7 separate regions of the Homo sapiens genome follow, and regions 2, 3, 4, 5, 6 and 7 are each reported to be linked to region 1. The links are microRNA targets in miRTarBase. Many come from high-throughput screens and were not tested one by one. Region 1 holds a microRNA gene; each other region holds the end of a gene's coding sequence.
What was found. Region 1 holds the annotated microRNA hsa-miR-4735-5p (CCUAAUUUGAACACCUUCGGUA, at 1,512-1,533, shown strand). A microRNA usually pairs through its seed, bases 2 to 8, with sites in the 3' UTR of a target mRNA and lowers its output. Matches are read on the target gene's strand: a 7mer-m8 pairs with bases 2 to 8, a 7mer-A1 pairs with bases 2 to 7 and ends in A, and an 8mer does both.

Region 2: the mRNA of ARHGAP31 is a reported target of hsa-miR-4735-5p. Seed matches in the 3' UTR shown: 8mer at 3,295-3,302.
Region 3: the mRNA of ZNF696 is a reported target of hsa-miR-4735-5p. Seed matches in the 3' UTR shown: 7mer-m8 at 1,383-1,389 and 8mer at 1,083-1,090.
Region 4: miRTarBase lists NOM1 as a target of hsa-miR-4735-5p. Seed matches in the 3' UTR shown: 7mer-m8 at 3,206-3,212 and 7mer-m8 at 656-662.
Region 5: miRTarBase lists DIPK2B as a target of hsa-miR-4735-5p. Seed matches in the 3' UTR shown: 7mer-m8 at 2,077-2,083.
Region 6: the mRNA of THAP8 is a reported target of hsa-miR-4735-5p. The part of its 3' UTR that is shown has no 7-base or 8-base seed match.
Region 7: miRTarBase lists HOPX as a target of hsa-miR-4735-5p. Seed matches in the 3' UTR shown: 7mer-A1 at 1,037-1,043.

What each region holds. Positions count from the first base shown.
Region 1 is chr1:196,579,677-196,583,985 of GRCh38, reverse strand. It overlaps MIR4735 (microRNA 4735), which reads left to right and starts at 1,505; the gene lies at 1,505-1,573. The region is part of intron 1 of KCNT2 (potassium sodium-activated channel subfamily T member 2); the gene reads left to right.
Region 2 is chr3:119,415,773-119,420,081 of GRCh38, reverse strand. ARHGAP31 (Rho GTPase activating protein 31) reads right to left here. Exons shown (of 12, transcript NM_020754.4): 12 at 1-4,309. The coding sequence ends at 3,818. Among named protein-coding and RNA genes, the nearest start is that of TMEM39A, 46 kb to the left of the region's middle.
Region 3 is chr8:143,296,087-143,300,395 of GRCh38, reverse strand. ZNF696 (zinc finger protein 696) reads right to left here. Exons shown (of 3, transcript NM_030895.3): 3 at 444-4,309. The coding sequence ends at 3,596. Among named protein-coding and RNA genes, the nearest start is that of ZNF696, 6.8 kb to the right of the region's middle.
Region 4 is chr7:156,969,031-156,973,339 of GRCh38, reverse strand. NOM1 (nucleolar protein with MIF4G domain 1) reads right to left here. Exons shown (of 11, transcript NM_138400.2): 10 at 4,144-4,253; 11 at 164-3,811. The coding sequence ends at 3,637. Among named protein-coding and RNA genes, the nearest start is that of NOM1, 21 kb to the right of the region's middle.
Region 5 is chrX:45,147,819-45,152,127 of GRCh38, reverse strand. It overlaps DIPK2B (divergent protein kinase domain 2B), which reads left to right. Exons shown (of 5, transcript NM_176819.4): 5 at 136-3,755. The coding sequence ends at 476. Among named protein-coding and RNA genes, the nearest start is that of DIPK2B, 51 kb to the left of the region's middle.
Region 6 is chr19:36,031,820-36,036,128 of GRCh38, forward strand. It overlaps THAP8 (THAP domain containing 8), which reads right to left. Exons shown (of 4, transcript NM_152658.3): 4 at 3,165-3,773. The coding sequence ends at 3,621. It overlaps CLIP3 (CAP-Gly domain containing linker protein 3), which reads right to left and starts at 1,054. Exons shown (of 14, transcript NM_015526.3): 1 at 905-1,054; 2 at 373-596. The coding sequence starts at 538. All of the region lies in intron 3 of LOC101927572 (a long non-coding RNA gene), which reads left to right. RefSeq lists a silencer at 3,780-3,953.
Region 7 is chr4:56,645,287-56,649,595 of GRCh38, reverse strand. It overlaps HOPX (HOP homeobox), which reads left to right. Exons shown (of 4, transcript NM_032495.6): 4 at 799-1,598. The coding sequence ends at 876. Among named protein-coding and RNA genes, the nearest start is that of HOPX, 34 kb to the left of the region's middle.

The DNA of each region.
Region 1 (4,309 bases):
AACATCCCACCATGTAACTCTAACTTGTCCTTTCAGTGTTCACACTTCCTTACTAACACCAAACTGATTCATTTTTACATATCATCAAGACCTTCAGTACCCTATATATTTCCATGCTTTCCACCCATTTTTAACCTGAACTTTTCTTTCCTGGCTCTTATTTACTCTTCTATCTTGTGCATTCTTTCTTCTGCCCTATGGCTCTACTTACGTTTCTCTTAAAATTTCTGATGATCTTTTTCATGCCAGGTCCAATGAACAATTTTTTTTTTCTGATTCTCCTCCTCTTTCTTGAAACTTCCTTCTCTTGATTTCTATGATATCATTCTTCTTTGTTTTATGTCCTACTCATCTTATCCTAGTTCTCCTTTACAGTCTTCCCTTCTTTTATTTAGCACTAAAAATTATGTTTTATCAAGGATTCTTCCTTGGTTCTTTGCTCTTTTCATTTCTAGTTTGCTTTGTTTAAACTTCAATAAATGTAATTATATGTTGATGATTTCCAAATCATGATATTTGTCTTACTTCTCTGTGCAGAGCTCTAAAACTATATAGACTGCTTTCCACTGGGTGTCTTTTCATGTTCAGCAGACATTTCAATCCACAGTGTCCAAAATTAATTTTGTCATCTCTTTGAAACTATTTACCCTCTGGTATTTTTTGTGTTTAAATATGGTACCAACATGCAACCAGCCACCCAAGGCTGGATTATTAAATTCTTTTTAAAGCTTGGTTCACTACAGATCTCATTGATTCAATTCATAGATGGCTCAAATTGTTGTCCTCATGAGTCCATTTTAATTATTACGCTTCTAATTAATGTGCCTGCCTTTCTCATCTGAACTCTTGAGAGGTGTTTTAATTTTTCTGCCTCAGGTCTTCCTTCTGGCTGCCATTGGACAATTCCTCTCTCTGGAATGAATAACAACCTCTGAAGACATCCCACTCCACCTCTACATGTCACATGATATTCACCTATTTTTTGACCAGTTATCACTTACATAATCTTTATCTCAGCATTTTAGGAAGGCTTTTTCGCTATGCAAATCTCTGTATTTTATAATCCTGTATAATTATATTTTATAATCCTGTATAATTATATTTTATAATCCTATGCAATCTGTATTATCTTCTGTATTTTATGCTTTTCAAACCTTTATTGTACTCTATTTGTTCTACTTTATTTAGTTTGGACAAGCTGAAGCAGGTGACATGGTTCATCTGTATCCTTGCCTGATGCATCACTGAAATGTAAATGAATTGGTGGTGAGAGAATAATTCAAAGGACTCAGTGTTTGAACCAAGCCTAGTCAATGCTGTCAATGCTGCTGTATCTTGGGTGTTTGTGGAGGCACTAAGGTAGTGGCCAGGACTGAAGAAATTGGGAACTTGACCTTATAAGGCAGCTACAAAACTTGCCCTCTATCATTCTAACCAACCCTTCCAAACTTCTAAAAATCTCAGCTCCACTTCTGCAAGTTTATCTTCCCTGCTTGCATAAAATTGCAGTGCCTAATTTGAACACCTTCGGTATTCATCAAAAATACCAAAGGTGCTCAAATTAGACATTGCATTTTTTGCGCATGTCAAGTTGAAATCTATTCATGGATCTTTAGCTCCTTAAGAGAACATGCATATAACATTACTTTTTACTAGCATTCTTCCAAGTACTTTACATGCCCAACGAGAAAGCATAATATTATCCCCATTGTACAGCTGAAGAAACAGGCATAGAGAAGTTAAGTAATCCGTTGGTGATTACAAAGCTAGAAAATGGCAGAGCCAGGAACTTGAACCCTGTTTTTCTTGGCCATTAGGCTTGCTGGAAGGGGATACTAAGATGTAGGAAGGGAAGGTGGAGATGAGGGTCTTTGTTGATTTTCCTAAAAAAGTTGGCGTTGTACTGGCATATGGAGAGAAGTTGATAAGTAAATATTAAATACATACATGTTGGTTTTGAAATATATGATAAGACTTTTTAAAGTCTACCTGAAGAACTGGCAGTATTATTGGTTCTCCCACAGAATTTTCTTATGAAAGACATAATTTTCCTGAAATGTGAACATAGAGGCATTTGTGATGCCTATTATCCAGCTGTCATCTGTCTATTCATGTTGTACACATCTACTATAATTTAAATAGGAGAACAACAAAATGAAAGACTTAGTTTTCAAAACATAAGTAATGGAAGAAAGTGAATTTGATATATTTTTATGACAGCTTTTAGTAAATACTTTTAAAATGAACTGAAGTTAATTTATGCTTGAGTGGGATTTCTTTCTCTTTTTGGAAAGTTTTTATAAATAAATGAAAGAAAATATGTTCTTACTAATAACAGTTTCCCCTCCATCTTTCCCCCATCTCCTTAGGATACTTGTGGAATGTCTCTAGAGTGAGTCGGCCACTGAGAGGACTTTGTATTGTGTTAACTTCATTATATTGAAATTTTGGAATAGCCTCAGGGAATAAGGGACAGAAAAAAATGGGGCAATATTCACCCGGTGGCATTCATTTTCAGTAAAGAGCAAGTAAAACCCTTTATTAAATTTAATGTTTTATTTTTGCTTAGTTTGGAATATACATGTGTATTTCACATATATAAAAATAGAACTTTTTTTACTAAACTGGTCCAGATCTAGATATTTATAGGCATATGGAATTTGGAGGTTACAAAATTAACTTCTAAGAATAAATATTTCCTACTCCTCAAGTATCATGTAAGAATAATTTTTCTATGACAATAAAAAAAGCGAAACACTACAATCTGACCCATATTTTCTTGCCACAGATTAGCATTTATGTGATCTTATTCTAAGCCTATGTGGTACAGAAAGGTAAAAATGCTAAAAGAATGACTATATCACATATATACTAATATTTCAATGTTTAATTTTCTGAAAAAAAAACTGTACGTTTTGTAAATAGCTGTAGCAGCTATAGTCAAGATGATTTCTTGAGAAGAAATTACCTGTTCTTTAAAAAATGTTCTTGCCAAAATAATGATTGTACATAGCTCAAAAATCAGCTATTATTAGAAGGCTTACAAGAAAACAAGAACAAGTAAAACAACAATAACAAAAACCATCTGGCCCCTGCCTTCACCTTGTCAGCTTTTCCATGATGTACTTTTCAGAAAGAAACACTTTGAAGCCTTTTGAGTGTTTTTCCCTGCTTTTATTCTCTATAGTCAGTTTCACAGTTTCTCAATTTGAGGGAGTATTCATTGACTTCCTACTATGAAATATAAGGATTTAGCAGTCTAACTATACCATCACAACACACATCTCACTCCCCATTCTTCCAATACAGTAATTATTTTTGTTTAGAGCAATACCATGTATGCATATTATATGACTATTTCAGTTTTGCTCAGAACTGAGTAATGAGTATTATGATTATCATTTTCTTATTCAACTGTCTTTGTTTCTAAGTATATACACATTTTCATTTTGTTGTCTGCTAAGTTTTCTAGTTACCTATTGATAGTGTTTCACCAAGCACTGTGGTAGAACTATAAAGCCTTTCTCAGGGTAATCAAACACATCAGACAGTGTACCTGTGGGGAAGGTCCAGGTTATGCTGTGGAAAGAAACACTCTCAGATCCTCCGTGGTTCTCTTCTGTGGAGTTACTCAGGAACTCCCTCCCCTCCCACTGAACCATCTTCAAGCTTCATTCTGTACCCACATTTCTGTGGGATTGTTTATCACTTTTTTCTCTGTTGAGCTGGGGCTTCCATTCTATTATTTCTTCCATTTAGTATTTCTGGAGCTGGGACTTCCATTCATAATAAATCCATTATCTTAGGAATGCTCTTCACTTTCTTTACTTGAGTGTCCTATTTGCTGGATTTGTTTATTCTTTTGTATTGGTGAAGCACATTTTCCAGAAGCTTCCCTAGAAATGGTTTCAGGAGGAAAAGTTTTGAGCTTGTGCATGTCTGAAAATCTTTTTATTCTACCTTTCCACATGAATGGAAACATTTCTAGGTTGGAAAATTATTTTCTGTCAGAATGTGGAAGCCATTTTTCCATTCTTTTATCTTTCCATGTTTCTATTGAGAGGACCATGAACATTCGAATGAGACTTGCTTCCAGCCAATGAAAGCTGTATCACCAATGAAAGCTGTATCACCACTTTTCTGATATTTCATGATGCTGTACTTTAGTGTAGGTCTTTTTAAAAATTTAACTGGGAGGAGTGTGGTGGCTCATGCTCATAATCGCCGCACTTTTGGAGGGAGAGGTGGGTGGATCACATGAGGTCAGGAGTTCCAGACCAGCCTGGCCAACATGTTGAAACCCCTTCTC
Region 2 (4,309 bases), not on the chromosome of region 1:
TTTTAGCCAAATGTGATTATCATATGCCAAACACTGACAAGAACAATTTATCTTGAATTGAACAGTTTATCTTGGGCCTACTGCTTCATCATTAACTAGGAGTTAATCTGCTTTGTGATGACAGAAGTCTCTAAAATCCCCTTTTCAAGCACTATGGAATACTGATCTTACCTGGCTCATTTGCAGAGATCTCACACTTCACCAAACCAATTATGACCACACGAAACCTCCGAACCTAGTTGCCACTATTCTAGCCTAGTTGCCACTTTCCAGTTTTCTAAATCAAGCAAAGTTCTCAAATACCCGAGTGTCTCACTGGGATGTTCTATTGGATTTGCAATTGTGTTCAATTTGATTATTTGGAGTCAGTAGGTCACTTGAATACCGTCAACTATCCTATTAAAAGATGCTTGTTGCCACACTTTTTCCCCTTCTGCTTTTGTTTGGCAACTTAATGGTTCTCAACCTTGCTCCTGGTTGTTTATGGGGGTGTTTTATTTGCTGCCATCCCTCCCCCTTTTTCACTAGACTCTTGAATGATTTGGGAGTGCTAAGGTACCCAGTGCACTATTACTAAGCTCCCAATAAATATTTGCTAAGGATGATGATATTTACATTTTTAATGTCCTCAGAGTCTAGACTTTTGACTTGGACAATATTTTGAATTTTAGGGTTTAGATTAGGTTAGGTGTCTTAATGGGGTTCTTGTTCAGATTTCTTCATATTCCAAGTGTAGCAGAAAATATAGGTTACTATTTTCTTAAGCAACCACTAATGCTGAAAGAAAACGTCAGTACATGCATGCGTTTCACTGCAAATCCATCATTTAACATCAGCAACCCCCATTTTGAGGACTGATAGCTGATTTGAAGGAGCCCTTGAGAATTTGATTGCATAGCCCTTTCTAGGGCACCAGGTAAATCCTCCTAAACACAGCAGCTCCTGTTCTGTCCCTCTCCTGAATGGAAGCAGACTATCTGATTCCCATCCAGCCATTCTCAGGGAGTTCATTTTTCGGAGACTCAAATGAGTGGTGAAATAGGTAATCCCAGAGCATTTGGGGGAACAATTTGTGGGGGGGAGGAATATGAGTTTTCTTTCTTTAGAATGGAATTTCATCAGTGCCAGGCTAGCCCAGACCACAGGAAGTTTATGAAAGCCTTTGTGATGGCTGGCAGGCTGGGTGAGAGTCAAAGTGGAGGTCCACACTTGAGCAGCAGGACTCTGGCTGAGAAGGTGAGTCAGCTTCTAAGGCCTTTTGGACTTGACTAGCAAGGAAAGCTGAGAGTAGGGACTATCTCCACAGCTGTCAGTGTGTCTCATGATGACATCCCCAGAACTGTGTTCCTGAAGGTGATGCTATAAATGTCAGAGTCTAAAAGATCTTGCAACCATTTTATAAATCCACACAGGCATCTCAACCCTTAGAACTGAAGTCACTTGTTAATATGTAAATGGTGGCTTCTCAGTCTATCCCCAAATAAAAATAGATCTTATAAATGTTACCAAACAAACATTTAAAATAATCATAAAATAGTTTACATATTCATTATTTGGCTCAGAGTTCTGATGGTGAAGCAAAGTGCAGCTCTTTCCCTCCCTCGCATTCTAACTGGAACATGGTCCTTATCAGAGCGTCGACACCGCAGGAGCACTGAGGCTGACATAAAACCTGTCTGACACATTTTCTGATAAGGCAGGAATGTACTTTTCAGATCTCTTGAACATGGCCTTTCTCATCTGTCACCACTGTATTTCTTCACTTTGCTGGCCTGGGGAAAAATACTATATTCTAGGACTTTTTTCTTACAGGTTCATATCTCGTTGGCTGTTGGTTCAATGTCTTCCTCACCCAATGAGAAGGCCAAAACACTGATGAAAGGCCTTGCTCACTCAGTGCTCTCAGAAGGCAGAACTCATCAGCTGACTTGCCAGTCACCCTCGCCACAGACACTGGCTTAAAAGGTACAGAACAAGATTTCAAAACTGTTTGTAAGGCTTATTGGCGGGGAGGGAGGGAGGGAGAGGGAGGAGAGAGATAGAGAGACAGAGAGAGAGAGGAATATATATCTGTTGCAGGGCATCAGCTCCCAATTTCTCATTGGAGGAGGTAACTTCATCTCAGCCCCCACTAAGCCCAGAACCAGCCTTGGTTGTGACGCCTACCCAGAGGTACTATCAGCCCTTAGAGAAATTTCTGCAATGACTGAGCTTCTGGGCAGAATTCAGCCAGGCTTGAACCTGAGAAGAGATGCCCTGTGAAGTCCTTTTTTGGGCAGCACCAAAAATCTGCCAGCAGGTATATTAGTTCTCCTTTCTCTCGCCAGCTGGAAAGGAAAGAACCATTGAAAGTTATAAATAATTGAAAAGAAAATCAGATTGGTTTATTGCTTCTGCTTGTATACAGAGTTGAAGAGCAAGTTTGAGTGAGTGCCTGGAGTGGGCGGTGGATGAGGGGAATTATGGAAGGGAGAGGGGTTCCTCAAGTCTGTTATTTTTTAAGAGATGGGGTCTCGCTGTGTTGCCCAGGCTGGTCTTGAACTCCTGGGCTCAAGCAATCCACCCATCTCAGCCTCCCAAAGTGTTGGGATTACAGATGTGAGGCACCGCACCTGGCCTCAAATCTGTTCTTGAGCAGTAGAGAGGAAAGGAGAAAGGAAGGGACCCACTGGCTAAAATAAAATACATTTTTAAGAAGGGCAACTCTCAGTGAGTGGTTGTGATGGCCGCCCTGCTAGGGCTCTTCCCTCGCCTCCTGGAGCTCCTCCCTTCATCCTCTCCTGTATTGCTGGGCCCAGCCTAGTGTGGAAGAAGAGTAAAGCTGAGCTAGAATATTTTCTGCTGGTGCCCCACCAATTTAAACACATTAAATTTGGAGTGTAGTTCTGCCTTTGTATGAGGCTTTTATCTATGGTGACATCCTGTTCTTGGACTCTGATACTGTAAAGAAAGCAGATGCCTTCACTTCACAATTGCATACCTAAATGAAGATTTAGTACATTTCATTATGGTAATCCTCAGCCCAGCCTCCACCCTGCGTAGCTACTGGATTTATAAATTACAGTCCAGTACAGTGGCAGTTGGAGTCCCAAATTACTAAAAGCCAGAGCCAGGAAATCTTCTTGGATTGTGCCAGTCTCAGAGTTTGCTCTTGATTCTGATTTTCTATGCTGGTATATGGAAATCATCTTGGACAGGTCTCCAGGGATTCCAGGGAAAGAGCATGGGTAAGAGTGGCTAAGCTCACCCACTTGGATATCTAAGTGCACGTTAGTTTGCATTTCCAAATCCGCTTCTAATTTGGATAGTACATTTTACAAAGCTTATTAGAAAACTGGTCTAAAAGAACACGTTTGAAAGAGCATTAAAAAGCATAAAGAGGAGGCCTTCTAACCCCAATAGCAACATTTTGAGGTTTGACACAGCAAGAGATTTTTCTTTCTTTCAAAGAACATTACTTCTTTCTTTCAAAGGACAGCCAGCTCTCAAGAGTAATAGATAATAGCAATAGGGGAGCAATCTGACTCACATACAAGCTCCAAAGTTCATTGGAGGCAAGCATTCCATCCTCTCCCCTTACCTAACCTTCTCTCACTTGCTCACATAGACTTAACTAAATTTCATCTCTCGTTTTTCCCTTGACCACTCTTCTAGCAAATGGACTAATTAATAAGTGGTCAAAAGGCTGAAGAAAGAGAAGTCAGAGGCCACAATAGGCCCAAACTTGATAACGTGTGCCTGGAATATGGCAAGCTGGCCCTGTAATAACTTCCAGATGAATCACGGTTTTTTTCAGACACCAGCAGGTGAACCGAAATCATTCTATTTGCCTCCCACTTCTTCCATCCAGAATTACTGATCTCCGCTGAGGCTGGTAAAAACAGCTGGTTGAGGTCTCTAGTCTCTGGCCATTCTTAGGGATGGTCATTTTATTCCTAAGTGTAACCCCTTCTGGTGTGACCCATGTGTTTTCTGCCAACTCTCCACAAAGAAGGCCAGGGGAAACTGTCTGGGTGGGACTTCTGATAGGGGACAGCAGGACCTTGGAATCTGTCACTGTGGATGAAGGGGGCAGGTGGTCCATAATGGGGAAAGGAGGACTGAATAAGATTAGGCTCTGAGGTCTTCCTGGCCTTGACCTGTGGAAAGGCTTAGAACCCCCAGATGGTCGCTCTAGTTTTGAAGAAAGAAGGTTGTCCCCAGATGGCTCTGTCTCTGACATGCGCTTTCTGCATTGCACTACTGCATCCTGGGTGGAGAGCAGGTTAGACGAGCCTGGTTCTGGAGAAAGGGTAGGTCCCTCGCACAT
Region 3 (4,309 bases), not on the chromosome of region 1:
TGACTCTGGGTCACAGATTTTCCTCCTAATCTTTATGTGTGTTTGTGTGTATGACAGTCTCACTCTGTCACACAGGCTGGAGAGCAGTGGCGCAATCTTGGCTCACTGCAACCTCCGCCTCCCAGGTTCAAACCATTCTCCTGTCTCAGCCTCCCGAGTAGCTGAGATTACAGGCATGCACCACCACAACTGGCTGATTTTTGTATTTTTAGTAGAGACGGGGTTTCACCATGTTGGCCAGGCTGGTCTCAAACCCCTGACCTCAGGTGATCCACCCACCACGGCCTCCCAAAGTGCTGGGATTACAGGCATGAGCCACTGCACCCAGTCCTAACCTTTACCTGTCAACCGGCAATTCTATACAGCTTACTGTCGTTAGGGACATATTTAGTTTTGTTTCCACCATCTTAATTTGCCCAGTTTGTTTCTGATTTTTTTTTCTTTTTTGAGAGAGGGTCTCACTCTTTTGCCCAGGCTGGAGTGTAGTGGTATGACTACAGCTCACTGCAGTCTCGAGCTCCCAGGCTCAGGTGATCCTCCCACCTCAGCCTCCTGGGTGGCTGGAACTATAGGCTTACTTACTGTATTTTTTGTAGAGACAGGTTCTCCCTATGTTGCCCAGGCTGGTTTCGAACTCCTGGGCTTAAGCGATCCACCCACCTTGGCCTCCAAAGTGCTGGGATTACAGGTGTGAGCCACAGCGCTCAGGCCCAGCCTGATTTCGTTCTTATTTTTTAATTGACAGAAGTTTGTGTTCAGTTCATTTATTTATTTTATGGGCTCTCACTGTGTTGTCCAGTCTGGAGTGCAGCGGCACAATCGTAGCTCACTGCTGCCTCAAACTCCTGGTCTGAGGATCCAAGCCGAGATCCTCCTGCCTCAGTCTCCCAAGCAGCTGGGACTACATTTTAAATCACAGTGTTTTATTCTTTTTATTGGATTAGAGATGTATAGACTGGTTACACTCTTTTAGTAATTAACATTAAATTACACTATGCACATTTAACTTATCAAAGTCAAATTAAACACTATCTTACACCCTCTTCCCAACAACCGGAGGGTCTTAGAACATTTCTGTCCCTTCTAATTTACATGCTATTGTTGTCTAGTATTTTAGTTGACACTATTCTTTTATATATACATATGTATTCATATTTATAATTTTATTTGCTTGCCATTCCATCTTATATCTAAGACCATCACTCGGCTCATTTTCCTTTATTTATTTATTTTTTTAAGATGGAGTTTTGCTCTTTTTGCCCAGGCTGGAGTGCAATGGCGTGATCTCGGCTCACTGCATCTTCTGCCTCCCAGGTTCAAGGGATTCTCCTGCCTCAGCTGCCCGAGTAGCTGGGATTACAGGTGTGGGCCACCATGCCCAGCTAATTTTGTATTTTTAGTAGAAATGGGGTTTTGCCATGTTGGCCAGGGTGGTCTCAAACTCCTGACCTCAGGTGATCCACTGCCTCAGCCTCCCAAAGTGCTGGAATTACAGGCGTGAGCCACCGTGCCCAGCCCTATGTTGCCTAGGCTGGTCTTGAACTCCTAGGCTCAAGTGATCCTCCCCCTTAGGCCTCCCAAAGTGTTGGGATTATAGGCATGAACCACTGCACCTGGCCTGTTTTTCATTTCCAAAAGTTCTTTAAGGAGTCCTGCCTATTCATGCGTGACAGTATGTACCCTACAGCTTTCTCATCACTGACTGCGCGACTTCTTTGAACACCTCACACATAACTATCCTCTCACCTGTATGATGACAGTTTCAGGATCTGCGTTTCTTTGTGGCTGACAGCGGCTGCCTGCTGTTTCTGTTGGCCCTCAGTCAGCTGACTCTCCTTGTGTGCTTGGGGATCTTTGCAAGCTGAATGCCTGACTTACGAGCAGGAATGAGGCTAAGCCAGGTAAGCTTCCTTCAGGGAGCAGGTGCTTTGACCGCTACTGGTACCTGAGGATCTTGGCTCAGCATGGGAGACACAGGCTCATCTTCCCACCTCACCACCGGCCCAGGGGTCAGGAGCTTAATTAACGGTGGGGCCACCAAATCCATTCTGAGACCACCCCTGCCCCTACAGGCTGCACAACCCTAAGCTCATGCATTTTAACAAAATCGGTGCCAAGAGCCCTCAAAGCGACTGTCTTGGAAGCGGCAGCCAGCTCAGGACCCAGAATTCTTCCCAATTAGTCCTTACCTGGGCAGAGAACTGCAGGAGGTGGTCACAAGCCACACCCAGACCAGGATGGGCGAATCCTGCAACCGCACCCCAGGGGCTCACGGCCAGTAGGCGGCTCACATTTCCCTGTCATCCCAAGAAACTCAAAGCCCACCTCGCTTAATTCATGATGACAGAGCTTTACTATACGCCCCCAAAAACGCTCCCCAAAGAGACACTTCTACTTTTCTATCTAGAAAATAACATTTTAAAAAATGAAAATATTTTACAGGAAATAACATTTGTACATACTCATAACAGTCTCAAAGAGAAAACGATTCCTCTACCCACAGAACGCTTCTGAAATCACATGTGTGTAAGCCTTTCCCTCCACACCAACCAGCTCTCCAACTCCCTCTCAGACACCAACGCGATGTCCTACAATTTAACTCGATTCTGTCACCAATTGCCCGGAGCTAGTGCAGAACCCACAGGGTAAGGGGTCAGTCCCACAAGACCACCCCGACTTCAGATGCCAAGTGCAGACGGTGGGCCCCGGGGACCCCACGACCCCCTTCTCAGGTTCCAATTTTTTTTTTGAGATGGGTCTCTCTGTCGCCCAGGCTAAAGTACAGTGCCCAGATCTCCGCTCACTGCAACCTCCGCCTCCCAGGTTCAAGTGATTCTCCTGCCCCAGGCTCCCAAGTAGCTGAGATTACAGGCGCACGCCACCACGCCCAATTAATTTTTTGTATTTTTAGTCGAGATGGGGGTTTTGCCATGTTGGCCAGGATGGTCTTGATCTCTTGACCGTGTGATCCGCCCGCCTCGGCCTCCCAAAGTGCTAGGATTACAGGCGGGAGCCACCGCACCCGGCCAAGTTCCATAATTTTCTAAGCACACAGAAGTCGGGACCATATGAACCGGCTGTGAAAAGGCGTTGAAATACATGGATGAACCACCGACCCGCAAGGTACGGGGGAGGACGCGAGGCTTCCATGCCCTGTCTGGGCGCCCCCTTCCTAACTGCCCCCCCACCCCGCCTTCACCAACCCGAAGCCCGAGGCCCTCATCTCATGCAGGGTTTTGATGGAGGCCTGGTTGCGGAGGAATGACCGATTCAATCACCGGCCACTGCCCCGCAGCAGCTGACCGTGGGAGGCGGGGAGTCTCAGAGGCGGGCGGCCGGCCCGGGACAGACCCCTGAGACCTCCCCGCCTCTGGGAATCGCCTCCCGCGGGCAGCGCTCGCCTTCCCCGAGCCCTGTCTCTCCTGATTGCTCCCAAGCCAAGGCGGATGCAGGCCTGGCGAGGCTTTCGCAACCCGAGAACCAGGCGCGCAGCCGGCTGTTACTTCCTCACCGCGCACGGGGCGGACAGGAGCCTCCCCCGGCCTCGGCCTCGCGCCCACCAGGCCGCCGGCATCTCTTCCGCCGCAGCCCCGGCTCACTCGGCGCCATGCACCCGCCGGTGCTGGATGAGGTGGAAGCTCAGGCGGAAGGCGCGGCCGCACTCGGTGCAGCGGAACGGCTTCTCGCCCGTGTGGAGTCGCTGGTGCCGGAAGAAGCCCGACAGCGCCCGGAACGCGCGCCCGCAGTGGCCGCACTGGTGGGGCTTCTCCCCGGTGTGGATGCGGCGGTGCTCGCGGAGGAAGGAGCTGCGGCTGAAGGCGCGGCCGCAGTCCTGGCAGGCGAAGGGCCGCTCCCCCGTGTGCACGCGCTGGTGCTGGAGGAGGTTGGAGCTCTGGCTGAAGGCCTGGCCGCACTCCCGGCACTCGTACGGGTTCTCCCCGTGGTGGGTCCGCCGGTGCCGGACCACGTTCGAGCTGTGCAGGAAGCGCTTCCCGCACTCGCCGCACGCGTACAGCCTCTCCCCGGTGTGGGTGCGGCGGTGCTTGGCGGCGTCCGACCTCTGGCCGAAGGCCTTGCCGCAGTCGGCGCACGCGTAGGGCTTCTCGCCCGTGTGCACGCGCTGGTGCCGGAGGAGGTTGAAGCTCTGGCCGAAGGCCTTGCCGCACTCGGCGCACGCGTAGGGCCTCTCCCCGCTGTGCGCCCGCTGGTGCCGGACCACGTGCGAGCTGTGGATGAAGGCCTTCCCGCAGTCGCTGCACTCGTACGGTTTCTCCCCCGAGTGGATGCTCCGGTGCTTTGCCGCGTCCGA
Region 4 (4,309 bases), not on the chromosome of region 1:
TTTAGTAAAGATAGGGTTTTGCCATGTTGGCCAGGCTGGTCTCGAACTCCTGACCTCAGGTGATCCACCTGCCTCGGCCTCCCAAAGTGCTGGCATTATAGGTGTGAGCCACCGTGCCCGGCCAAGCTGGTCTTTCAAAATAAACATTCACTGTTACTCTAAACAAAATATAAAAAATAAATTTTATTTATGCATTTCAATACATTAAAGTTTGTTCCTTATACCTTTAAAAATGATACCCTGAAAGACAGCTGTTTAGTCATTCTATACATTAGCAGTTCTCAACCTGCATTGTAAAGTCCACAAGTTCATACATAACACTGAGCACTAAGCATCCTGCAGTATTTTAAGTGTATTTTCAATTGCACTGTAATAAATTTCAAAAAACCCCCTATATATTTAAAAGCAATTCTGAATTCATAGCTTTTAATCAAGATGTACTCATTTACTATTTATACGAAATTACAATTACTATCTAACAGCCCATATATGTTGGGTTTTTGTTTCTGCTTTTGAGAGTTTCACTCTTGTTCCCAGGCTGGAGTGCAATGGCACGATCTCTGCTCACTGCAACATCCGCCTCCCAGGTTCAAGCGATTCTCCTGCCTCAGCCTCCCGAGTAGCTGGGATTACAGGTGCCTGCCACCATGCCCAGCTAATTTTTATATTTTTCATAGAGACGGGGTTTTGCCATGTTGGCCAGGCTGGTCTCGAACTCCTGACCTCAAGTGATCCACCCGCAACCTCCCAAAGTGCTGGGATTACAGGCGTGAGCCACCGTGCCCAGCCCTGTATGTTGTTAAAATGAACAGACTTACAGGCAATCTGCCATGTACTAAATGCAAACCATAGCTAATAATTTAAGTCATACATATAACTCTCTAGCAAAGAGAGGTATTTTTGTTTTAATAATAAAATATAAAAATGGGATTGTTTATAGAAATTCATCTTTTGCAGAAAAATCAGCTTCAATTCTGTACCTCAAACATGGGTTACTGCATATGGTACATCATGAAATCAGGTGGTGCCACTGTCGTGATAGTTTTTCCCATCTTAGTAGCCGCACCCATAATTAATGCCTACTCACATCAAGTTAGCACCACTCAAATGTGGGCCATTCACAGGCAGCCAGGGATCCTCTTGGTCCGTGAGGTTGGGGGCTTGCATCAGAATGCAAATCTACCGAGGCGTGAAGCACAATTTAGTTCAACTGACATTTTTTCCTTCACAGTAAGACCTTCTGGAGGAAGGAAGCAGTGTGTTGATTTATACCTTAGCCCAAGCTCCTTATTTCACTATCAAGCTACAAGTCCAGTAGAACTGATCTGTTACATCCCAATCACCACCCAGCAAAGACACTCTTGTTAAAAAGCTCCTTAACAAAGGGAAGATTTTCACTTAATTCACTCTTCTCTTAGTACCTGTCACCTTATTTGTCCTCTAAATTCAGAACCTGCTAGAAGACATAGGGTTTGAATCTGGCTTCGGGTCGAATGATGTTGCTGAATGCAGGGTTAGAAGTCTGTAGGGACGACACAGTCTCTGTGCTGCTTTCAGTTACTTTCTGTATTCAGTTGTTCATGTTGCTTGCGCATGCTTCAAAGCTTAAACCATTAGTTTAGGGATATGCACAGATACTGATGACTTCACATCACGATTTCCAAACACAAACTGCCATAGGGTCGAGCTAAAATAAAATTTGAGGCCAGGCACGGGGGCTCACGCCTATAATCCCGGTGTTTGGGAGGCCAAGGTAAGAGGATCACTTGAGGCCAGCCTGTATAACATACGGAGATCTTGTCTCTACTGCTTGTGGTCCTAGCTATCCGCGAGGCTGAGGCAAAAGGACCGCTTCAGTCCAGGAATTTGATGCTGCGGTAACTATGATCGTGCCACTGCACTCTGGCCTGGGTGACAGAGTGAGCCTGTCTCTCTCTTAAAAAGTAAATAAATAGTATCTGAAAGTGCCACAAATGGGGCGTTTTGCCCAGGAGAGGCATCACCAGCACCTGTGCCCATCTGCCCAACGTGACCACTCTGAAGAGGACGGTGACTGCTGGACAGATGAGTTTTGGACATATATAACCTCTCAATGTCTATTCTGTATTCACATCTTAGTGACTTTTTTCAACAATCAAAGGTAAGATTTAAATTGAGTCTGTAGCATTTGAGAGAGAAAAGCAAAATTGAAGGGCTGAGAAAACAATAAACATTTGGGTATCTGCAATACATGCTGTTATCTAGGGACATTTCTGCTTCCTCCCAGAATCAGTTTTCCATACTTAGTGAGTGGGGTGTGTTTGTTTCTCCCACTAGACGGATGTTAATTCTTTGCAGGCAGTAACTATATTTTCTTCATGTTTACATCTCCAAATCCTTGCAAGCAAGTAGCACCTATTAACAGTCAAATAACTACTGTTTGGTGACCTCAGAGTTGTTTAAGATGGTACATTTACAATCTGGAATTGGTGAGGAGATGAATATCCTCAACTGTGTGAGAATGTTACATGAATGATGAAAAGCACCTGTCTGCATTACAGTGTACATAAGGCCATATCCACAGGGCTTATGTCGACTGACTTTGCCAAAGTTAATTGCAACCTAAATACTTAAAACAGTATCAAGAATCACATTTAAGCTGGGCGTGGTGGCTCAAGCCTGTAATCCCAGCACTTTGGGAGGCCGAGATGGGTGTATCACCTGAGGTCAGGAGTTCAAGACCAGCCTTGCCAACATGGTGAAACCCATCTCTACTAAAATACAAAAATTAGCCGGGCGTGGTGGCGTGCGCCTGTAGTCCCAGCTAAAGAGGCTGAGGCAGGAGAATCGCTTGAACCCGGGAGGTAGAGGTTGCAGTGAGCTGAGATTACAGGACACTGCACTCCACTCTGGGTGACAGAGCAAGACTCTGTCTCAAAAAAACAATCACCTTTAAGGGATGGTTTTTGAACTTCTAACCAATATTTTAAAAAGGTAAAAACCTCATCAATTTCTTTATAACTGCACCCTCTAGTGGCCTGTTTTATCTATTAATTTTTTTTTTTTTTTTGACAGTCTCACTGTCAAAAGTCTCACTGTCCAGCCCAGGCTGGAGTACAGTGGTACAATCTTGGCTCACTGCAGCCTCTACCTCCAGGGTCCAAGCAATTCTTGTGCCTCAGCCACCTCAGTAGCTGCTATTACCAGCATGTGCCATCATGCCTGGCTAATTTTTATATTTTTAGTAGAGACAGGGTTTTGCCCAGGCTGGTTTCAAATTCCTGGCCTCAAGTGATCCGCCCACCTTGGCCTCACAAAGTGCTGGGATTACAGGGGTGAGCCATCACGCTCGGCCATATCTATTAAAAAATTTTAAGACAATCATACACACCAGCCTCACTGCTTAGAGAACCCTGTCCAGTGTGCCTGACCCCTTTTCCCTCCCTCCTTCTCCTCTCACCCCCAAGATAGTTATTTGAAAATGGCTTGAAATACAAACAATAAAACCTTAGATCAAAAAAAATCTCAAAATATAATACATTAACAGACAATGATATAGCTCTACCAAACATTCACACGCAGGCAACAGAATAAGCCTTTGGGTTTACCAAGGACATTTTACAGTCAAAGGGCCACCTGCCCTCCTTCCTTCCCTGACTACATTCTCAGGGAAGCTTTTCCTTGCAGACACTTCGTTGCAAGGTCAGCTTTCTCTCTCAGCACGTTGGCTTCGTCGGCGCTTCTGTGGGCCTGTGCGTTCTTTAGCAAGAAGTGGCTGATGAAAAGCTTCAAACCCTCACGTAACACCCCCAGCTTTGGGTTGTCAGATACTCTGGAAAGGAATCGTATAAACACATGTCAGGGCTGAGCTGGCCTCTCCTAGATCTCAATCCTGGGTATCTCGCATAGTGAGACATAACCAGTTTCTTTTAAAAATAAAATTCTCAATTAAGAACTTCTTAACATATTTTATTATTAACAATCATTGTTAGTTTGCTAGCAGACAAGTTTCTATTCCCCAGATCTAATGCATACCAGCTTAAAAATAAAACCGAAAAGATTAAGCTACACGTATAGTACAACCTTGTGTTTGTAAATCAACACAAGTGAAAACAATCTCTTCATTTCTCTTCCATGTCTCGTCGGAAAGGGTGGGGCACATACCTTGTGAAAATTAAACTGAGGTCTTCAACTTCTGTTTCCATTAATAGGATACTTAATACTTTTCGTAAAAAACGGACTCTGGGTTTGTCCAATTCACTGAATTCAACTACCTAATGGTCAGGACATGGAGAAAAATAAAGTTACACTGATTTAGCCAACTTTTTCA
Region 5 (4,309 bases), not on the chromosome of region 1:
CCTCAGCCTCCCAAAGTGCTGGGATTACAGGCATGAGCCACCGCGCCCGGCCCCACCCAGGAATTCTAATTAGTGGTGCCCTCCCTCAAGGAGCACTGGTGGCAGGGTGTGTAATACTTCCCATTTCTTTTCTAGGCAGCCAAGAAGCCAACAGGGCAGGAGAGAATAAAGACATTTTTAGCTGCCTGGTTTCCGGCTGCCAGGCCCAGCTGCCCTCCTGCGAAAGCATCTCTGAGAAGCAGAGCCTGGTGCTGGTGTGTCAGAAGTTGCTGCCTCGACTTCTCCAGGGGAGGTTCCCCTCCCCAGTGCAAGACGACATAGACTCCATCCTTGTTCAGTGTGGGGACAGCATCCGCCCAGACCCAGAAGTCCTTGGGGCCGCCAGCCAGCTGAAAGACATCTTGAGGCCCCTGAGAACGTGTGACTCCAGATTTGCCTATCGTTACCCAGATTGCAAATATAACGATAAGTTCTGAAGGGCTGGTGTCTAGCTGGCCTTGGGGACAACACGCTTGGCTCTCCATTCTCCCAGTCGGGTTGCTGCAAGGTAGAAAGAAGCAGCTCTTTTTTAAAGATGAGAAGAAAGGCACACTCATTTCTTAGGGACTGAGAGGGGAGTTGTGAGATACCACGTGGCTGTCTCTGCTGGCTGGGACGTCCTGGCAAAGCCCGCGGTGGGCATCAGAAGACCTGGGTGTGGACGCTCACTCAATGTCTTTGAGCCTCAGTTTCCTCTGTTCTCCACCAGACTCTCCTGAGGGTGAAAGAAGACACAGATGGAGCCACCACTGAGCATATATCCCAAGCATGGGTCTTGGGACACATGCTCACCACCTCCATCCCAGGTGGTTACAAAGTGTGTTCTGGAAAAGCACAGAGGCGGGGAGCATGAGAAAGAGCTGCTCAGGTCAGGAGGCTGGAGTGGAGGGAAGGCAGGGGAAGGACAGGCTCCCTGCCACTACCACTTTAGACTCGGACAAGAGGGGCCCCCTTCCTGCTCCCTATGGCCCTGCGTCACTCCCCACACCATCGCGGGATGAGGAGACTGCAGGCCAAGGGGACATGCCTGCCACCACCTAGAGCCTGGTACCTGAGGCTCCATACACCTGCGCATGGGGCTTCTCGTGGTGTGGGAAGAAGCCAGGGGTAAGAAGATAAAGGGGGGCCGGCGGGGGACCAATGTGTTAGCCCAAGTCTTCCAAGAATATGTGTCAAGATAGAGTGAATGGAACAAAGATTTGTTAGGGGAAATGATTGTGTGTAAGGAAAGAAGGAGGGAGCCGGAGAAGATTGGGAGGACCAGTAAGTCGAGCTGCAAGCTGAGCCCCGGTGAAGGAGAGAATGTCTGGCAGGAGCTTGCTAAGCTCAAAATCAAAGAAAGGTTCAGCAAGGCTGTCAGGGTGTCCTCAAGACAAAGGCAGCCATCAGAAGAGCCCCGTGTCTCCCACAAATAGACCCCGTTAGCATCCCTGCTGCACTCAGTGGTTGGCGGAAACAGCAAAGATAGATTTCAGAGCACAGCAGCAGGGGTCCCTGGTCAGCCCCGCTCCCTAGAGCAGGAGATCTTGAGTGGGAGAACATTCTTGTTGTAGCCACAGCTGAGGCCCTGGACCAGCTCTCTCCACACCGCATGCTCCGAGTTGGGACTCTAAGGAGTCTAGGAATTTTCATTCAAACTTGGCCTTACAGGTCACTCATCAGAAAAATACTTTTTTCAAGGTCAACCAATAGAACATACTTTATTCAACAGTTTGTTAGTTTGCTTTTTAAATATTTAGCCACATGGTATGTAGGCTTCCATGTACACTCTTGCCCTGGCCCCTGAAACATAAGCAGGGGGCTCTTCTGTACATTTGCCCAGCTTCCCTGCCAGCCTTTAACCCCAGGAACCTCTCAGTCTACCTCCTCTTTTCTGCCTCTGAATCCCTACCTTTAAAGTCAGAACAGGCCAGGCCCGGTGGCTCACGCCTGTAATCCCAGCACTTTGGGAGGCTGAGGTGGGTGGATCACTTGACATCAGTAGTTCAAGACCAGCCTGGCCAACATGGTGAAACCCCATCCTTACTAAAAATACAAAAATTAGCCAGGTGTGGTGGCGGGCACCTGTAATCCCAGCTACTCAGGAGGCTGAGGCAGGAGAATCACTTGAACCCAGGAGGCAGAGTTTGCAGTCAGCCAAGATCACGCCACTGTACTCCAGCCTGGATGACACAGCGAGACTCCGTCTCAAAATAAATAAATAAAAATAAAGTCAGAACACCTGGCTTAATAGGCCTCACTGTGCAGATGAGGAAACTGAGGCCCAGGGAGGAAGAGCGATCTGTGGAGATATTTCTAGAACCCCTGCAAGCTGAGCCCCAGTGAAGGAGAGAAGGTCCAGTAGGAGCTTGCTAAGCTCAAAATCGAAGAAAGGTTCAGCAAGACTGTCAGGGTGACCTCAAAGCAATGGCAGCCATCAGAGGAGCCCCATTGCTATTAGGAGGCTCCTATTGCCCTCCCCTTCAGCCTCTGACTTTCACCTGTGCTACCCAATTCTGGTTCCTTCACTCCCATTCAAAAATGGACCCCAGAAAAGCCTTATTTTGTGGAGTACCTAGTTCCCTTTTGGGTTTGTCTCTTGACTGCTACGGGCATTGCCCCAGGGCAACCATGACAGTGAAGATGACTGGCCAAGCTTGTGGACTGGCCAGCAAGCTTGGGCTGCCTGAGACGCTTTGAAATGGCTGCCTTCTGAGTTGGTCTTGAGGGTGAAGACTGACCACCCTTCTCACCTGCACAGTCACAGTCCCTCTCCTGCTGGCCTGACTGCAGCTGTCCTCCCAGCTGGCCACCTGACCAGAGACCAGGAGAGAGGCCACAGCCTCCAGACCCTCCAGAGTCCCACGGAGGAAGAAGGCTTACCAGAGAGACCCTCTGATGCATGAGCCAGGCCCCAGCCCTTCTCCCTGCATCCAGGTGTGTTTCCACCGCAAAATGCCTCCACACAATGAGCGACTTTGGCCCTGCGTGGGTCAGCATGTGGTCTGAGGTAACCCTCAAATGCCTCCACCACACATCTGTCCACCTGCACGGGTTCAAGGTAAGCACTTGCCCCCTTCTCTCCTCCAGACCAGTCGCCTGAAATTCTGAGCAACATTCCTTCAAGACTATCATGTAACCCTTGGTGATGCTGAGTCCAGACAGGAAATGCAGACTTGGGACCCACCTGTATCAGCAGAAAGAGGCCTTGTGCCCCGTTTGTCCGAGTCCCAGAACGGAGCAAATGAGAAAACCGGCGAGCTGTCCCCCGAGGAGCTGTAGGGAGATTGGTTTTTAGTATAAATTACAATAAAATTTTGTGTATGTGTACAGCTGTGTTCACATCCACAGTGTAAGCTGTGATATGGTTTGGATGTTTGTCCCCTCCAAATCTCATGTTGAAATGTGATCCCCAGCATTGGAGGTGGGGCCTGATGGGAGGTGATTGGGTGATGGGGGAAGTTGCCTCATGAATGACTTGGTGCCCTCCTGGAAGTGATGAGTGAGTTCTCGCTGAGCTCACTCAAGATGTGGTTGTTTAAAAGAGTGTGGCACGTCCCTCCCCCAACTCTCCCTCTCACTCCCGCTCTCACCATGTGACACACCTGCTCCCCCTTCGCCTTCCACCATGATTGGAAGCTTCCTGAAGCCCTTACCAGAAGCAGATGCCAGCCCCACACTTCCTGTACCACCTGCAGAACCATAAACCAAAATAAAGCTCTTTTCTTTATCAATTACCCAGCCTCAAGTATTTCTTTATAATAATACAAAATGGGCTAATACAAGCTGAGTGCTAAGGAGCAGGGCAGATGTCAGGCAGGCCCTACATATGCTTAGGAGTGGCCTAGAAATAGTTCCCCAGCTAGTGGCTTTTCCTAGGTTCAGGAGATCACAGAGTCCTTTTCTCATACACCTTCACGACAGAGCAGATGTTCTTGTCAACATGCCTGAAGACCACAGGCCCCACTCAGCTGCCTTCAGGGAACATTTTCCTGCCTCCCGCCAGCCACCTGCTAACCCTCCCCCACCCACCCTGTGGTGGACACAGAGCTGAGCCACCCAGCTCTCCCTTCAAGAAACAATGCTCTTCCCAGCATGGCATGGTTGGCACACAGCATTAAGCCATCAGGTCCTTCGGGTTCTGCCTCAGCCACCTTCACTCGAGGTCACACCCTTCCTAGGGCATATCTAGACCCAGTGACTAGGCATGCAGAGGTGTGAAGGCCCCGCAATTTTGGCCCATTGAGCAACAACTCTAATAGGCAATCCTCCTTCCAGAACTCCCCACCCA
Region 6 (4,309 bases), not on the chromosome of region 1:
GTTTAATACCTATTTGTGTGGCTGTTACTGAGGCCTGTGAGTTGTCTCAGGGCAAAGACTGGGTCTCTCTTGCCCCCTGCTGTGGCCCCAGCCCCTAGCATAAAGCCAGGTCCACAGCCGCTTTCAAAAAATGATTGTTGAATGACTAAATGATGGAATGATGTGTCATGAGTCAAAGACTAGGAGTATTACAATTCCATTCTCCAATGGGTGAATGAATGAATTAACGAGGGGTGCTCTGCAGCCAAGATTCCTCTGGACCACCTTCAAATTCCCCAGAATTCTCCCACCATCACCACCAGCAGAGCACAGCCCACCCTCCCCGGCCACCCAACGCTCCAGGCCAGATTCCAGGGTGGGGACAGTGGTTACCGTAGTCCTTAGGGAGGGGGGCAGGTGCCGAGGGGTGCACAACAGGCTTCTGCCGGCGCTCCTGGGTGGGGCTGGGGGCCTCGGGGACGGGTTCATCCTCCTCCTCCTCTTCTTCCTCCTCTCCTCGGGGTGGCGGGGCCATCGGGGCAGGATCTGTCTTAGTCATGGTCCTCGGTGGCCCTCGGGGGGCGGGTGCAGAGTTGGGGGCAGCCTTCAGGCAAATCCTGGAGGCAGAGGTCAGCTGGAGAGGGTGCCCGGCAGGCTCCAGGGTCCAAGCCCCTAGGAGCTTCCAGGGCCCCGGGTGGCCTCCGCGCAACTGGATCTTGGGCAACCATAGGGACCCCCGTTACCCATAGAGGGCCCCGGTGTGTGCGCCCAGCGCCTGCCACCTCCCCCAGGCCCAGCCCCCCATTCTTCTCCTCCCGCGTCAGGCCCCTCAGTCGCGGCTGCCCCCTCCCCGGGTTTGTTTATCTCGGGATTCAGGATGCTTCGCCCCTCCCCTTCTCCGCGGGCCGCCCCCTCCCCATCTTACCTCGGGCAGACAGCGCTGGGGACCAAAGTGGAGACTGGGGAGACTGTGGGAGCAATGGGGTGTCGGTGTCAGGGGACGTGATGGGGGAGGCAAGGGAGACAGAGAGAAGGGGACGAGGCCCAGACGCCGACAGGGGGTGGGGGCGGAGAGGGAGGGGCGCGACTGCGCATGCGCCTGCTGCCCCCCTACCGGCGGCGGGGGAGGAGGGACCAGGAGGAGGGACCGGGAGGCGCTCGCATTGATGGAGGGGCCAGAGGCGGCGACTGAAAGGGGAGAGCCTCCGGGCACTGGGAGAGGAAGAGATGGCTACGGAAAGGAGCGAGATGAGCAGATACAACGGCAAAAGAGAGGGCTGAGAGAGCGGACACAGATCTTCTCCATCCCCTTCCCCCACGCCTGCAAACCAGGCCGGTGAGGGCAGTGGTCTTGGGGCGTGGTGACGATGGGGACCCTCTAGGGGACCCTCTCTCTAGGACCCTAGACCGGACCCCTTCTCCAAGCTCACCATTCATAATGGGTGCCTCAGAGGGGTGATTTCCTAGAGACTCCTATCATGATCATCTCATCCTTACCATCATAATGCGAGGCTCACACACTGGGGCCCAGAGGTTAAGCAGCTTGCCCAAAAGTACATGAGTAGGTGATGGAGCGAACATTTGAAACCAGACAGTCTGTAAAGTCTGATTTTTATTTTTATTATTTCCTAGACAGGGTCTCACTCTGTCACCCAGGCTACTGTGCAGTGTTGTGATCTTGGCTCACTGCAGCGTCAAACTTCTGGGCTCAAGCCATCCTCCCACCTCAACCTCCCGAGTAGCCGAGACCACACGTGCATGCCACCATGTCTGGAGAATTTTTTTTGAGACAGGGTTTTGCCATGTTGCCCAGGCTGGTCTTGAACTCCTGACCTCAAGGGATCCTCCTGCCCCTGCCACCCAAAGCGCTGAGATTACAGGCACGAGTCACCATGCCCAGCTTTGATTCTTAATCACCATGCTACATGCCTGTAGCAGTGTCTGGGAAACAGATCTGCCGATTGACCCCTCCAACTCTCTCAGAACCTGTATCTTCCCCACGGAGGCCTCCTGAAGCCAGCCCAGGGTCCTGGCTCCATTGTCATGGCTTGGCTTCCCACCTGGAGCTGTAGCCTGCTCTGCCTCAAATCATCCCAGCCTGGATGGGGCTGGGTGACAGCCTTGAACACCTCATCCTTCTAATGCACAGGTCCAGTAGCTCCATCTCCAAAAGATTTCCAGGATCTCACTCTCCCCACCGCTACCCTGGGCCCTCATCTTGGTCCATCCTTCTTCTTCTGCCACCAGCACTACGGCAGCAGCCTCTTACCTGCTGTCCCCGTCCTCCTCCAACATGCAGCCACAGGGACCCATGAACACCTGTCACTTTGGAGCCCTCTTTCCCTCAGAGGGGTCTGCCTGCTGCACCTCACTCCAGGTAGAAGCCAAGGCTCTCAGCCATGGCCCACAAGGGCCTATGTGAACCTGCCCCATCATCTCTGCACTCACCTCCTCTCACCCTCTTTTGTTCACTCCACCCCAGCCACACTGGCCTCCTTGCTTCTCCCTACCCCAGGACCTTTGCACTGGCTCTTTTTTTTTTTTTTTTTTGAGATGGCAGTCTCACTGTTCCCCAGGCTGGAGTGGAGTGGCATGATCTCTGCTCACTGCAACCTCTGTCTTCCAGGTTCAAGTGATTCTCCTGCCTCAGCCTCCCGAGTAGCTGGGATTACAGGCCTGTGCCACCACACCCAGCTAATTTTTGTATTTTTAGTAGGGACGGGGTTTCGCCATGTTGGCCAGGCTGGTCTCAAACTCCTGACCTTAGGTTATCTGCCTGCCTCAGCTTCCCAAAGTGCTGGGACGACAGGCGTGAGCCACCGTGCCTGGCCTGCAACGGCTCTTTGTGATGCCCGGAATGCTCTTCCTCCAAATCCCTACGTGGCTCCCTCTCTGCCCTGTTTTAGGATCTTACTTGTTGGTGTCTTTTCACCTTCTCTGCTCTAAAACTGCACCCCTTCCTCCCTTCCCTACTATGGTTTTCTCCATAGCAACACCGCCTCCCAGACCTGACACATCCCAGACAGCAGGCCCTCACTGCAGGGGTTGTTCGTCCTCTGGAACCTGAGCCTGTAGCGCTCCAGGCCAGCCCCTTCTGATCACCCAGGTTTCTGCTAAAACATGGCCTTGGAGGGCCCTCCCCCAGGCCCAAACCAAATTTTTGTTGTCTTTATAGCACTCATCGCTCATGTCTGCAGTGTTCTTGTTTATTTGTTTACTAGTTCATCGTCTACTCAAGTAGAATGAGCACCATGAGGGCAGGGATTTTCTCAGCTGTGTCCACCATGGTATCATGAACTCAGTACCAGGCTTGGCAAAAAGCGTGGGACTCCTTAGAACCAGGTATGATTCTCCCAAACAACCCTTGCTCTGCTCTGAGGCTGTCGTACTGATTTGCAAAGATCTGAGCCGGGGGTGGCAGAAGCCTGGTACCCAGGGGATTGGGGGCTGATGAGAGACTTGGGCCCAGGTCACCCCTAAGGTTCAAGAGATCCCTAGGAGTGGGGTGGTAGAACCCAGGCCCTTGAGGGAGGCACTGCTACTACCCAGGCGTGGGCGGTGGGGCTGGGCCAAGCCCACGTATAATGTCTTTCCTCCTCCATCTTCTATCTTTTGTCCCTCGACATTGTCTGTCTTGATCCTTATGCACTGGGGATCCGAGTGTCCAGGAGCTCCGGCTTGGCATCCACTGTGGCAGGTGCAGGGTCCTGGGCAAGGACCATGGCTATGTCAGGCCCTCCACAGATGATGGTGAAGGTTTGGGATTCCTCAGGTCCAAGGGTCTGGGCTGTTGTCTAAGGCAAAGAAGTGGTAGAGATGGGGAACATTACGAAGCAAGTTGCGGGAGAGACAGACAGATAACGGTGAGGAACAGGGAGGCAAAGGTGGCAGGAGGGCGTGTCAGGAAACAGAGAGAGATGTGGGGAGAGATATGAGGAGACAGGAAAGCAGATGTGAGGGCCAGAGAGACATTCATGGGAAAGGAAAGAAGGGTGGGGAAATGGGAAGAGAAGTGCGGGGGCACAGACGCAGACACGTGGGGGAAAGAGATGTGCAGGCAGACAGACGTACAGACAGGGTCAGAGATATGGGGGAGACAGAAAATATGCAGATAAAGAGAGACACAGGGAGGTGGGGAAACAGGTGGCGGACAGAGATGATGGGCAGAAAGACAATGAATGTTGGGGAGGGAGGAGATTGGGAGGTAGGGATAGATGAGTAGGAGACAGAGATTGAATGACAGGAGGGGAGGCAGAGAGAGGCAGTCAGCTCAGGGGATCTGGCAGGCTCCACAAAGAGCCCCAGGCCCGAGTCTGAGCTCTGTCCCTGC
Region 7 (4,309 bases), not on the chromosome of region 1:
GAGATTCTGAGTAAAGTGGTAGGCCCACTTTAGCTTCTCTCACTGCTCAGTGGCCCTGGAGCAGGATAGATTGGGCTGGCCTACTCCATGCATCCCCAAGGAGTGCTCTGAGGTTGTGCAGCGCTCAGTTACCTATTAATCTTATTCAACAAATTCTTACTAACTGCTACCAATGAGGAAGGCCTTTGGTGAGCTGAGCATACATTGATGAAATACAGCAGCCATAGAGATCTATCTGGGGCATTAAGGAGATGCTTTAACTTCTTTTATTTATTCAGCAAATATTGATTAATTTCTAACTCTTAAACCTTTGTACTAGTGGCTAAGGATGCAATGGTGATAGGATGAATACAGTCTCTGCTTTCATGGATCTTACATTCTAGAAGGGAATATAGATTTAAAACAAGTGAATACACAAGTAAATCATGACAGATGCTAAAAGTTCTGTGAAAGTAACAAAATACTAAATTGGGAAGTAAGGAGATGAGTGGGAAACCCATTTTAGATAGAGTGATCAGGGAAGGCTTCATTGAGAAGGTCCTGTTTAAGCTGAGATGTGAGGATGACAGGGAGATCATCAGATAAAGAATAAAGAGAGAATATTCTAAACATAGGAAATAGCATGTGCAAAGGTCCTGAGGCAGGAAAGTTTAGTGTCACAGTGAGAACCATCCCTATGGGAACATTCCTTGATTCTCTCCTTTCCACTTGTGCCACAGAGGCTACCTTTTAGAAAGGGAACAGGCATTTCAGTTTTTCTGTATGTGACAAATATTTTTTCTCATTTCTCTCTTCCAGAAATGGTTTAAGCAGCGCCTGGCAAAGTGGCGGCGCTCAGAAGGCCTGCCCTCAGAGTGCAGATCCGTCACAGACTAAGGAGATGGCAGGCATTGACAGCTTCACTCCATGAAGGCCATCTCTGTTTCTCTCCTCCGCTTAACCAAGCTGTTGTGGTTTTTCAGCATAGTGTTGTATGTTCCATTGCTAGCTGTCCTGCTGTTTAACACAGTGTTGTATTTTTTTTCTAAATGTACATAATTAGAAAAGAAAATAACAATAGGAAGCTATGTGTATCTTCTGTGTAAAGCAGTGGCTTCACTGGAAAAATGGTGTGGCTAGCATTTCCCTTTGAGTCATGATGACAGATGGTGTGAAAACCATCTAAGTTTGCTTTTGACCATCACCTCCCAGTAGCAATTTGCTTTCATAATCCATTTAGCAATCCAGGCCTCTGTTGAAAAGATAATATGAGGGAGAAGGGAACACATTTCCTTCTGAACTTACTTCCCTAAGTCACTTTCCTTATGTATCATCTAATACAATGATGGTTGAGTGAAAATACAGAAGGGGTGTTTGAGTATTCAGATTTCATAAAACACTTCCTTGGAATATAGCTGCATTAACTTGGAAAGAAGCCTGTTGGGCCAGAAGACAGAAACTCCAACTGGCAAAAAAGCAAGCATCTAAGAAAAAAAACCACCAAAGTTCTTGAATTTACTATATTTAAATGCATTGGTTAAGTTTATTTTGCTAAATAAAGTGAACTGCTTTTTGTCTCTAAAATGATATTCTAAATAAAACCTTAACTTTTTGTTGAAGATGCACTGAGTGAGTTCTCTGCAGGTTTTTAACGAAATAAGAAACATATCAAAGAGAAACAAAATAATAGCTCCTATGTGGTAGGAGCTGACTGACCAGGAGAGCTGCCATTTTCTAAATCCTTGCTACTCAAAGTGTGTTCCAGGACCAGCCTCATCAGCATTAGCTTCAACCTGGTGAGAAATGCAGAATCTCAAACCCCGTTCCAGACCCAGTGAATCAGAACCTGCATTTTTAAGAAGGCCCTCAAGCGGTTTATATGCACGTGGAAGTTGGAGCAGCACTGTTCTAACAAACTCTACACTCAATTTGCATTCATTTACTATCATAGCACACTAGATGTCTGCTATGGCCTGAATGTGTCCCATCCCCCCCGCCCACACCCCGGCCCCCAACAAAATTCATATGTTGAAACTTAATCCCTAAGGTGGTGATATTAGGAGGTGGGGCTTTTGGGAGGTGACCAGGTCATGAGGGCTCCACCCTCATGAATGGGATTACTGCCTTATAAAAGAGGCCTGAGCAAGCTTGTTTGCCATTCTGTCATGTGAGGATACATAGGAAGCACCTGGGAGGAATGGACCCTCACCAGATTGAGGGCTCACCATAGTCTGCTGGTGCCTTGATCTTGGAGTTACCAGCCTCCAGAACTGCGAGCAATAAATTTATGTTGTTTACAAATTACCCAATCTAAGATATTTTGTTATAGCAGCCAAACAGAGTAAGACACCATTTTAATAGTCTATCAGTTAAGACTGTGTTTGATTGCATGGAAGAGTGACTTGATTACAATGGATTAAGCAAATAGGCTTGTTTCTTTGTTTTCTTTTCTTTTTCTTTTTCTTTTTCTTTTTTCTTTTTTTGAAACAGAGTCTCACTCTGTTGCCCAGGCTGGAGTGCAGTGGTATGATCTTGGTTCACTGCAACCTCTGCCTCTCAGGTTCAAGCGATTCTCCTGATTTAGCCTCCTGAGTAGCTGGGCTTATAGGTATGCACCAACACACCCAGCTAATTTTTGTATTTTTAGTACAGACAATGTTTCGCCATGTTGGCCAGGCTGGTCTCAAACTCCTGGCCTCAAGTGATCCACCCGCCTCAGCCTCCCCAAGTGCTGGGATTACAGGTGTGAGCCACCAGCCTGGCTGTTTCTTTGTTTTCTTGATTGTGTTTAAGTAAGACATCACCAGGTAGGTAATCCAGGGCTGTTAGAGTAGCTCCCTAATGTTGTCAAGGAGCTGGGGTCATTCCATCTTCCCATTTTACTATCTGTAGTACACAGCTTTTGTATTCATGGATACTTGGACACTGCATCTGCCTTTCAAACAAAATGAAGAGAAAGAGGGAGGGAAAGCATAGGGCAAATGCCAGCTAAGACTTTCCTCTCTAAAAAGATTTCCTGGAAGCCCCCACCTAACAACTTCCACCTACATCACATTGGCCAAAGTGAGTCACATGGCCACTCCTAGCTGCAAGGGAGTCTGGGAATTGGGGCACTTGTAAATGAGCATAGTGCTGCCTTGAGCAAAATTAGGGTTCTGTTCGTAAGGAAGAAGGGAAAGATGGATATTGGAAAGGCTGATAACTACACCTGCTAATCCAGCCTGGGATGACACAGGTATACACTTCTGAACTCTTACCTCTAGTTCAGGAACAGTCTTTCTGGTTCTCTAAAATTAAGAAACCAAAAGTGGAAACACTAACAATTATTTATTTAGAATACAGATGTTTACAAGATCCTATTAAACATCCCTGGGCAAGCTTCCTCTTCCTGTATCTTAAAACTTTTCTTCTGACAACAAATACACAGTGCACCAGGGTCTGAGCAAAACAGACTCATATCTAGCATCCTCTCCTGCAACCTAAGTAGTGGGGATCTAAATTGTGGACAAAGCAGACTGAGTATGGTGATTGGTCCATGTCAGGCAATGAGAGGAATACTAAACCAGGTCTAAGATCCAGGTCAGAAGTCTTTCCAACACACTAGAGAGATGATTCAAGAACAATCCAGAGCAACAGCCAGGCACGGTGGCTCACACTTGTAATCCTAGCACTTTGGGAGGCTGAGGCAGGCAGATCACTTGAGCCCAGGAGTTCAAGGCCAGCCTGGACAACATGGTGAAACCCTGTCTCCATTAAAAATACAAAAATTAGTGGAGACTGGTGGCATGCACCTGTAGTCCAACCACATGTGAGGCTGAGGTGGGAGGATTGCTTGAGCCTGGGAGGCAGAGGCTGCAGTGAGCTGAGATCATGCTGCTGCACTCCAGCCTGGATGACAGATTGAGACCCTGTTAAAAAAAAAAAAAAAAAAAAAAAGAACAATCCAGGACAAAACCAGCTGGGCAGAGAGTGTGCCTTTAACTTGGGCCCAGAAGCCCCATTTATGGTAAAAGAATCACTTCCTCTGCCCAATAGTCTAGAGTCCTTGAATGGCATGTGATGGGAGGGAATGAGGGTTCAGTGTCCTTTTAAATGCAAGTATGTTACCAGTACTAATCTCCTTGAGTTTGCTTTTTCAACTGTGAAACAGGGATAGCAACATTCTACTAAATTTTTAAAAAGCACTTTGTAAATAGTCATAATAATTGCTACTGCTACAAAGTACTAACAGACAGGGCAAGGTTTACTTTGATGCCTGAGATAAGTCTTCACAAGAACGCAGAACTCTAAGTTTTATTGTCAGGAGTCTCTTTTGGACACCCAGGGTCAT